Linked DNA regions of Homo sapiens. The protein of the gene in region 3 purifies or fractionates together with the protein of the main gene of each other region. This does not show direct contact. Each region holds a gene or a part of one and is shown on either strand. Other genes may lie near its edges.

Region 1 (3,500 bases), on a different chromosome or scaffold from region 3:
GGCTGCCCCAGATGAACAGTAGCACAATGAAGTATTAATGGGGCACAGTAAAACTGAAGGAAGCTAAGCATTAGAAAATAATAAATGAAGAATACTCGCTACTGTAAATGGTGTTTGTTACATTATGGAACAATGATTTTCATTACATGGTCGATGCTATTCATGGTCCCCAGAGGTTCTCAAGGTGATGACTATTTAAAAATATGACTCAATGTTTTTCCTCCTTAAAAGCACGCTATTCCTCTGACCCAAACCCCATAAAGTACAAAGCAAACATTTTTAGCAATGGTTAAAAAAAAAGCTAGGCAAAATGTACATTATGACCATCTTTTTGTGGATACATGAATAGGGTACATGAGTTTGGGAGAGAGAAGGGGTGAGTGGCTCATGGACTTTTTGTTTTTCTAAATTAGCCCACAGAATAGAAAATTTCTATAGATATAGAAGCTTTAGGCAAAGTGTGGTGGCTCATGCCTGTAATCCAGCACTTTGGGAGGCTGAGGTGGGCAGATTGCTCGAGGCCAGAAGTTCAAGACCAGCCTGGCCAACATAGTGAAACCCCGTCTCTACTAAAAATACAAAAATTAGCCAGGTGTGGTGGTGCATGCCTGTAATTCCAGCTACTCGGGAGACTAAGGCAGGAGAATCGCTTGAACCTGGGCTACTTAGGAGGCTGAGGCATGAGAATCACTTGAACCTAGGAGGCAGAGGTTGCAGTGAGCCAAGATTGTGCCACTGCACTCCAGCCTCAGAGACACAGCAAGAGTGCCACAAAAAAAAAAAAAAAAAGACTTTAAAGAAAATAAATTTATTCTTTAAAGAATAAATAACTTAAAATAGAATAGAAAATTTAAATTCTGAACAAGGGGAGAAATGAAACATATTTCTTCCCTCAGTTCCACTTCTGAAAGTAGGACGATTCAATAGGTAGACAAATAAAAATAAATAAATCCAAGGTAACTCTTGGAAAAAATCCTCAGCATATGGCTAAGTCAGGTTTAGAAAGTTATTGCTGGCTGGTGCAGTGGCTCATGCCTGTAATCCCAGCACTTTGGGAGGCCAAGGCAGGTGGATCACCTGAGGTCAGGAGTTCAAGACCAGCCTGACCAACATGGAGAAACCCCGTCTCTACTAAAAAAAAAAAAAACAAAAAAAACAAAATTAGCTGGGCATGGTGGCACATGTCTGTAATTCCAGCTACTCAGGAGGCTGAGGCAGAAGAATCGCTTGAACCCTGGAGGCAGAGGTTGCGGTGATATTGTGGTGAGCCGAGATCAGCCTGGACAACAAGAGCAAAACTCTATCTCAAAGAAAAAAAAAAAAAAAAAAAGGAGAGTTATTGCTAAACTTGAAATTGAAAATGAGAGACTAAAAACAGTGAGTTCATGTCTAAATTTTAAACAAAGCCAAAAATTATAACTAGAATCAGGAGAAAAAAAAAAAAGATTTGCTCATATAACGTGAAAAACATTTTCTGTTAATGATTAGTAGCCACAGTGGATTTAAGAAGTAAATGTATTTCTATACAATGTTTTGCAGGAGTATATATTAGTATGTAGTGATTCCAATGTTTACCTTGTTAAAAATGGTAAAAATTTCTTTTACTTTTTATTTTTCTGGAATAATGAGGGAAGTGGAGTTTTTTCTTAACTCCATTTGTCTTAACAGATTCGGATATGTAAGCTTTTATTTTTTACCCTTTCAACCGAAAGTCATATTTTTCTCTAGCTCCTACTTTTGATATCTCTACATAATGCTATAGAGGTTGCTCCAAAAAAGTATTAATAGTAAATTTCAAGAAAAAATGTATATTTGTTTTAAGTTAATAAGTTTAGAGGTAGTCAAATATTAATAAAATGTGGATTACTTTCATTAAAAAAATCTATGAAAACATCCTTTTAGGCATACTGATTTATTTAGTTATCCCTATCCCAAAAGCAATTAAGTTAACAAGTATTTACTGAATTTCTACCATGTCTCAGGACAGTTATAGGCCCTGTTCTCACAGAGGTTATGCTCTAGAGGCCCTTTTTTCTTCATGTGTTTGAATACCACTTCAGATGCTGACCAGTCTATCCAGTAGCTTCTGATTTACTTACTTTGCATCCACGCCACCACATTTGCCTTCGAAGTTGTTTGGATCTGTTGCTAAAAGCTGTTGCATTATCCGATAAGCTTTCTATATCACATAGAGGATGGAGAGAAGGATTAAACGACATAACAGGATTCTTTTATCTAGTCACACAAAGATAAGAAAATATTAATTTCTACTTCTGCAAATTTATTCCCTTTTAAGCATGAAAACAGCATTCTCCCTTTTTTCCACCCACAAACTCTGGCATTCTACATTATTAAAAAAATGAAAACAAAAAGCAAAAAACAGCTTGCAGATCAGTTTGCTCACTTCTTTTTTATTATAAAATTAAGAAAAGTCTTTTTAGGGCCTTAATGCTTATAAATAAACTTAGGAAATCTAGTAAGAAAAATACTCTTTAAAAATTCAAATACTTGGCACACCTCTAGAAAAAAAATTACATGTTGAGAAGTTAGCTTCTTAGAAGATATCAAAAGTGACTGATTTTAAAGGAAAACAATATACATTTTAAATGTGACTAAGCGAGGTGTTTTTTTTTTTTCTAAAGTCTGTCAAAGATTAATCAGGTATTCAGCCATTCACCAAACAATATTTGAGTGGCAAGTACGTGCCAGGTATAGGTATAGGTATAGGTATAGGTTATAGGTGTAATGACTGAAAGTAAAGAAAGGTGACTAAGTTACCAAATAAAACATAAAATAAAAATAGCAGATAAGTTTGAAACAAGTGTTGAAAAGTGAGTAGGTCTTTAGGCCCTGAGATCATGAGAAACACAAAGTTCATCAATATCACAGGGCAAAAGAAAAAACAGCTCTACTCTTCACTCTTCAACAATGAAATTTTAAATTCTTCATTCTCCACTGAACAATTAAAAAATAATGAAACAATAAGATGACTCAAAGTAAAGGAGTTAAAATTAAACCATTAAAATCATATACTTAAGAACCAAATGCCAATTTCCTAAGCCAAGATTTGTAAACGTTGGCTAGACAAGTAGAAGACAAAAACTAGCAAACAGATTAGTAATATCAAGAAATACATGAAGATCTGTACCTGATTTGTCCTGTAGTTCATCTAGTCTCTCCCCTCTCTCAATTACCTTTGTAATATTTTCTTGCATGACATCAATAACTTCATCCACTTGATTCTGAACACTAGTTTAAAAAAGATACACAATTATTTATCCTTCTTTTGAGAATGCTTACAATTTTTAAAACTTTCATTAGACATAATAAAGAATAGCAAATTCTCAGAGAATTATTCAACTATAAAATTTAAATTTAAGACTTTGTAGCAATGTTCTTCCATTTGTGGGCTTCAGTACTCAGATAATGAAAGACAATATGATATAAATTAAAGTAATATTTAAAGATAGCTTACTTTTAGCCCTGCTTCTGACTTGTAA
Region 2 (3,462 bases), about 32 Mb from region 3:
ACACGCTCAAAAGCTAAAGTAGATACTAAGCTTCATGTGTGAAGGTTTAAGTAAAACTACTATATTCCAAAACTCTGGTTTCAAAATGCACCAACTACCATGACAGGGAGGACTTGGCTCTTGTTTTATGTGTTAGAACCACCACCTCATCAGAATTAAGACCTATGAGGACAGGAGCTTATTCTACCGTGTCCCCCACAGTATCTAGCACAGATGTCTATTACTGAAACACTGAACTGGGTGTCTCATTTTCTTGTGGCAATAAAAAGCTTTTACCTTGTCTGTGATTCGTTTTATTTGTGGATTTTGAGCATCAATCTCATTGCCTATGTTCAGGGCCATGTCTTTTAGATTTCCCAGGATACTGCCCACTTGAGTCAGGTTCTCTTCCATTTCATCTTCTCTGGCATCATTAGTTATGCTATCACAAGAAGACAGTTAATTCCATAGGTTTTGTTGAATTTAAATAAAAGTCTGGATTTACTTTTCACAAAAGTAAGTAACCAAAATGACTCTCAGCAAGTATAAGATCCAAAAGAATATAGGTTACCATTCCTGGGAAACATTCTATAATAAAAACTGGGAGACTCATCAAAGAGAGCACAGTATCTTAAAGCCATGTAAGAAAAGAAAGAAACTCTGAAACAGTGTTTCTCAAAGCTTAATTCCCAGCATCACCTGGGAAGCTGTTAGACATGAGAATGCTAATTCTCACACTCCATTCCAGACCTACTCAATCAGAAACTGTAAGTGCATCCCAGAAACCTACGGTTTAATAAGCCCCTCAAGTGGTTCTAATGCACAGTTAAGTCTATCTAAAGAAGCACTGCCCTAAGAGAGAGGTTGGAAAACTACGGCCCAAGGACCAAATCTGGCCACCATATGATTTTGTAAATCAAGTGTTATTCAAACACAGCTGTGCTCATTTGTTTACATATTGTTTATGCCTGCTTTAACCCTACAACAGAGTTGAGTAATTGCAAGGGACTGTATGGCCTGAAAAGTCTGAAATATTAACTCTCTGGCTCGTTACAGATCTTCTTACAGGAATCTAGCTGACCCTTGTTCTAGATGACACATTTTAAAACCTATTTTTTTCTATATATAAAAGTAAAATATGTCTAGTTCAATAATTTGGAAAGTACTGAAAAGTATAAAGAAAAGTTAATTCCATCACCCAAGGTCAACCACCACAGTCAACATTTTGTCTGGCCAGGTGTGGTAGCTTATGCCTGTAATCCCAGCACTTTGGGAGGCCGAGGCAGGTGGATCACCTGAGGTCAGGAGTCCAAGACCAGCCTGGTCAACATGGTGAAACCCTGTCTCTACTAAAAATACAAAAATTAGCTGGGCGTGGTGGCGCACACCTGTAGTCCCAGCTACTCGGAAGGCTGAGGCAGGAGAATAACTTGAACCTGGGAGGCAGAGGTTGCAGTGAGCTGAGATCACGCCACTGCACTCCAGCCTGGGCAACACAGCAAGACTCTGTCTCAAAACAAAACAACAAATAAAAAAAACCCACATTTTGTCAGTGGGCAGATTTTTAAATGCATTTTAAAAATGGAATAAATACAATTTTTATTTGTTTTATTAGGGGTCATGTACTGCTAAACTCATCTCCTAAGTGAACCATTCATTAAGAAAGGTACAGGAATATCAGGAGGAGTTGGCATACCGTTTAATGTATCCACCACTGGCTGCTCCCGTTGTTGGTTGCTGAAGCTGACCATTTGTCACCGGGCCTGGCTGTTTAGATACTACATTGCAAGGTGAGTTTTCTCCACCATCTCCCCATGTTGTCTTATAAGCCTTGCCAGACTCAAAGTTCTTTGTTCTATATAAGAGTCAGGAGTGTAGGGAGATACCAAAAAAAAGAAGACGGAGAGTTCTAATTATTAGTGCCTGTTACCTTGAGGATGACACTAATAACTCTAGTAGAAAAGCTGCATACAGCTAAGTCTAGATGATCTACACTATGCTCCATGGCAATATGGAATAGGAAATAGATGAATTATGTAAACCCATTGACACTAAAAAAAATTTTAAAAAGGTCCAAATACTACTTCTACCAAATCTTCACTAGGCTGTTAGCAAGTAGCAAAAGGCAACTATTTGATTTTTCAGGTTCCCTTAGCCTCTGGCACTATCGTTTTGCTTTTCTCTTCCTAGTGTATCCAGCACTATCTAGAAAAGAGGTTAATGCACATTACTTAAAAAAAGGTCCCTTAGAAAAGGTGTTCTGGGATACCTTAAGAGGTTCCTTGAAGGCATCTCAGAGGTTGACAAGGGATGACAGAATAAGAAGGCTGATGCTGGGTGCAGTGGCTCACGCCTGTACTCCCAGCACTTTGGGAGGCCAAGGCGGGTGGATCGCTTGAGCTCAGGAGTTTAAGATCAGCCAGGGCAACACAGCAAAAACCCATCTCTCAAACTCCTGACCTCAAGTGATCCATCCACCTCGGCCTCCCAAAGTGCTGGGACTACAGGCTCGTGAGCCACTGCTCCCTGCCTCAAAATGCCATCTCTATAAAAAAATACAAACATTAGCTGGGTGTGGTGGCACACGCCTGTGGTCCCAGCTACTCGAGAGGCTGAGGTGGGAGGACTGCTTGAGCCCAGAAGGTCGAGGCTGCAGTGAGCCATGATAGTGCCACTGCACTCCAGCCTGGGTGACAGAGTGAGACCTAATCTTAAATAAATAAATAAAATTTTAAAATAAGAAGACTGAATTTGAACCAGCGTAGTTCCAGCTGATCAGTTTTTATTAGAATTTTCCATGAAATTTTAAACAATGGTTTCTTACAAACAAACCAGCCATCAGGAAAGAAAGGCATGAATAATTTCCAAATTGGACAATCAGCGGACAAATAAGTACCTTGACCACACAAGCGGTCATTCATAAATCCTGTAGTGTAGGAGTTTTTCATTTAAGAGTTTCCTCTTTAAAAAAACGATCAAGGCCGGGCACAGTAGCTCACACCGGTAATCCCAGCACTTTGGGAGGCCAAGGTGGGTGGATCACCTGAGGTCAGGAGTTCAAGACCAGCCTGGGCAACATGGTGAAACCCCATCTCTACTAAAAATACAAAAATTAGCTGGGTGTGGCACCACGTGCCTATAATCCCAGCTACTGGGGAGGCTGAGGCAGGAGAATCGCTTGAACCCAGGAGGCGGAGGTTGCAAGGAGCCAAGATCACACCACTGCACTCCAGCCTGGGCAACAGAGCGAGACACTCCATCTCAAAAAAAAAAAAAAATCATAAGTCTAAGTGTCTTAAAAAGAAAGAAAAAGTGGCTATTACAGGGAAAAAAAAATGGCTGTTACGGAAAAGTGACACAAAACTTTTCTTGATTATTTGGCTAAAGTCAAGCTTTCATTCAATTTTAGTTTTCACTTTTCTATAAACAAAAACGAAATAGTATGTTGCTCAAATATTGATCTCTGATTTATTCTACATTTTA
Region 3 (3,500 bases):
AGGGAAAAATAAAAGGCCTTGTGGAAACATCTCTTCTAGCCATTGTGCCATCTACCTTGCACTTAAATGGGGCAGGCATTGGCGGCTGGAATCTCAGTCTTTATCTAATCTATTTCTTTTTTTTTTTTTTTTTTTTTGAGATGGAATTTCACTCTGTCGCCCAGGCTGGAGTGCAGTGGCGCGATCTCAGCTCACTGCAACCTCCACTTCTCAGGTTCAAGCGATTCTCCTGCTTCAGCCTCCTGAGTAGCTGGGATTACAGGTGCCTGCCATCACGCCCAGCTAATTTTTGTATTTTTAGCAGAGATGGTTTTTCGCCAAGTTGGCCAGGCTGGTCTCGAACTCCTGACCTCAGGTGATCCACCCGCCTTGGCCTCCCACAGTGCCGGATTATAGGTGTGAGTCACAGTGCCCAGCTATCTAATCTATTTCTTAGATAACACTCATGCCAGCTCCTTGAAGAAGTCTTCCTTTGCTACTGCAACCTCATCATCTCCCATCCCTCTGACCTTCTACAGACCTGGGCTGCTCTCAAGGTTCCCCAGATATAAATCCCAGCCCATCAACCAGACTAAAAGTTCCCCAAGAACAGGACCCAGGCCCCCCCCCCTCTGTCCCCACCTCATCTAGCTGAACTAGGAGGCACAGTGTCACTGAGTCACGGCCAGCAGGGACCTCAAAGATTTACAGATAAAAGTGATGCTGGTACTAACACACATGCGGGTCTGTGCAGCACATCATTATCTAACATCAGGGCACTCCCTTCCTTGAAAACAAAGCTAAGTCCACAAAGACCTGCTGAATAAACAAAGGAAGGAGGGCTCAACCGTGGCCTCAAACAGCCAGGCATCTGTGGTCCTGTCTTCTGAATAGAACCCTTAAGCACCTCAAGGGTTATATACATTTCCTTGGGAGTAAAGCACCTGCGGGTGCCTAGTGAGGACTTAAGGAGATATTTATAGCCCTTAAATCCAGCTTCTGGATGAGATGTTCCCAGAAGTTGAGTTCCCAGAGCCCAGGTCAGACACAGTGACCTACAAGCCTGGCCTGACCACCGTGTCACCCATCTCAGGGCCCCTCATGGGTGGGCATTTCTTCCTGTACATTTCAGCTGTATTTCCTCTATCCCTGTTCATTGCCCCAAAATCTCCTGGAGGCTTGGTGTTAAAACTGATTTTATTTGCTCTTTATATAGAAAAGACACTAACCTATTATATTGGTTCACATCTCTCCCCAGTCCAACCTGCCCCAGCTCCCTTGCTCAAACACCTCTGCTGCAATTATTCTGCTTCCTCTCTGGAATGGATACCCATGAGCTCAGCCCCTCTCTCTCTCTAGCCATCAGCTTCTTTCTGTCTTCACTCTTCTCCTTATCCAGCTTAGATTCCATAATTCATTACTCATTTTCTTATTCCCTCCCCTGCCCTGCCTTCTGGCCACACTCACCCTAGATGAACATAATTCTCATCTGTACCTGAGCTGAATGTTGCTAAGAAAAAAGGGGACCCCATGAGGAAGACTGTAAATTCACATCAGCCAATGTCAAATGAACCTTGTGTGTGGCCCAGAAATCTTAGGGGCCGGGTTTCTTTGGAGAGTGTCCTCACTATCCGTCGACAAACATGGCCTCGTTGTGAGCCCACTCTCCACACTACATCATATTTGATGGAAAAAATGGAAGCCATCAGAGGTAACTTCTTCATTTGCTTCCCAACATCTACAGACTTACCCACACCTGTCCCATCCCCCCTTCTCTCAGGTTACATGGTGGGAGATCCCTTCTTCACTCAAAGGCCAAGCCAGGCCTTGAAACTGAGTCTGTCTGCCCCATCCTCTTCCTACCATGCCATGAGGGACCTGCTGCAAAGACAGTATATTTTACCACCTTGTCGGCACATGCAAGCATCTGCCCAGGTAGGCAGCTAAGTGCAGGCCTCACTCAGGGCAGTGTCACATATAGCAGAACCCAACTGCAGTTACATTGCGGGTATCTTGGGATCCTGGGGCTCACACCCAGCACAGGATAGCCAGCTTGCCTCCCCCTCACATGCCTAAGAGGTACCTTCTAACTAGCCTCAGCACAGCCAAGTCCCATCCCCCCAAGAAGACACCTTTCCCACCCCCTGCTACAGATCACCAGAAATGAGGCCTTTACACTCTCAGCCTTAAAACCTTAGAACATTGATGCTAAGGTTTTCTAAATAAAGAATTCTAGATTATTTAATTATTTTTTTAGAGGCAGGCTCTTACTCTGTCACCCAGGGTGGAGTGCAGTAGCATGATCATAGCTCACTGCAGCCTTGAACTCCTGGGCTCAAGTGATCCTCCCACCTTAGTCCCCTGAGTAGCTAGGACTACAGGCATGTGCCACTATTCCCAGCTAGTTTTTTTAAAGAGATGGGGTATTGCTATGTTGCCCATACTGGTCTCAAACTCCTAGGCTCATTGGATCCTCCTGCCTTGGCCTCCTGAATAGCTGGGACTACAAGTGTGAGCCACCACACAGGCCTAATTTTTTTATTTTCTGTAGAGACAGGGGTCTTGCTGTGTTGCCTAGGCTGGTCTTAAACTCCTTACCTCAAGTGATCCTCCTGGCTCAGCCTCCCAAAGTGCCGGGATCACAGGTGTGAACCACTGTGCCTGACATTAGACTCTTACAGGTATAGACCACCCAACACAGAGCTGCATGGAACCACAGCAATCGCCAAGCCAATACTTTCTTCCTACAAATGAGGAACCTGCTGCTTGGCAAGCACAGTGACCAGGCAAACTTGATCCCACAGCTCCCAACTCCCAGCTGAATCCTCCTCTCTTTGAGCAATCTTCCAGAGAAAGCAAGACAAATAAGGCTTTGAGGGAAGGATTCCTCTCCAAATCCAGAATCCTGAGGTCCTGACAGTCCCCAGAGGTTCCCTGGAAAGTTACTCCAGTGGAAGGGAAAGGGGAAGCAAGAAGACAGGGATTACACTGCAGAGAGGGACCCCTGTCCAGATGCTCTGTGAAAGGAGGGTGGAGGGGAAGGAAGGGAAGAGAGGCCTAGATGGGGGAGGTTGAGGGAAACTGAGGCCCAGTCGGGGAGGTGGCCCATGGAAGAAGCCTCTGGGAGCCTGGCAGGGGAAGACTTATGGTCCATGCATATGCCACAAGTGGGACTGAAGGACAGTCAGGCCTGTGGGCACCCCACCCCGCTGCCCAGCACGCCCAGTCTTCCTGCCTCCTCCAGCCACCCTGGCCCACCCCCATCCCATGGCACTCACACATCCAGAGGTAGTAGAGGCGCTTGGTCATGCTGACATGCTGGGGAGGAATATCTGCCTCGAAGTCTTGGTAGAAACATGGCTTCAGCGGGATGAATTTGGGCAATGGTGGGAAGTTGTTCACTTTCTCTGTGGATGAGACACATTGCACAACATCACCTCCAGTCTTCCACCCGACAATCCAAGACGCCCATCCTTCCCCTGGCTGTGCTGCCCCATTGGCCCCTGTGGCCACCGGCCACT

Evidence for each region. Proteins that work in one complex are often made in the same cells at the same time.
Region 1: the proteins of SCAMP5 (region 3) and VAMP4 purify together in Homo sapiens (co-immunoprecipitation; one study listed by IntAct). This does not show direct contact.
Region 2: the proteins of SCAMP5 (region 3) and SNAP23 purify together in Homo sapiens (co-immunoprecipitation; one study listed by IntAct). This does not show direct contact.

What each region holds. Positions count from the first base shown.
Region 1 is NC_000001.11:171,707,566-171,711,065, forward strand, and holds part of VAMP4 (vesicle-associated membrane protein 4), read right to left. Parts: intron 3,250-3,500; coding exon 3,149-3,249; intron 2,236-3,148; coding exon of another isoform or gene 2,180-2,235; coding exon 2,100-2,179; intron 1-2,099. UniProt on the Homo sapiens protein: Involved in the pathway that functions to remove an inhibitor (probably synaptotagmin-4) of calcium-triggered exocytosis during the maturation of secretory granules.
Region 2 is NC_000015.10:42,526,634-42,530,095, reverse strand, and holds part of SNAP23 (synaptosomal-associated protein 23), read right to left. Parts: intron 1,835-3,462; coding exon 1,676-1,834; exon of another isoform or gene 1,625-1,675; coding exon of another isoform or gene 1,595-1,624; intron 422-1,594; coding exon 277-421; intron 1-276. UniProt on the Homo sapiens protein: Essential component of the high affinity receptor for the general membrane fusion machinery and an important regulator of transport vesicle docking and fusion.
Region 3 is NC_000015.10:75,012,563-75,016,062, reverse strand, and holds part of SCAMP5 (secretory carrier-associated membrane protein 5), read right to left. Parts: intron 3,387-3,500; coding exon 3,258-3,386; intron 1-3,257. UniProt on the Homo sapiens protein: Required for the calcium-dependent exocytosis of signal sequence-containing cytokines such as CCL5. Probably acts in cooperation with the SNARE machinery.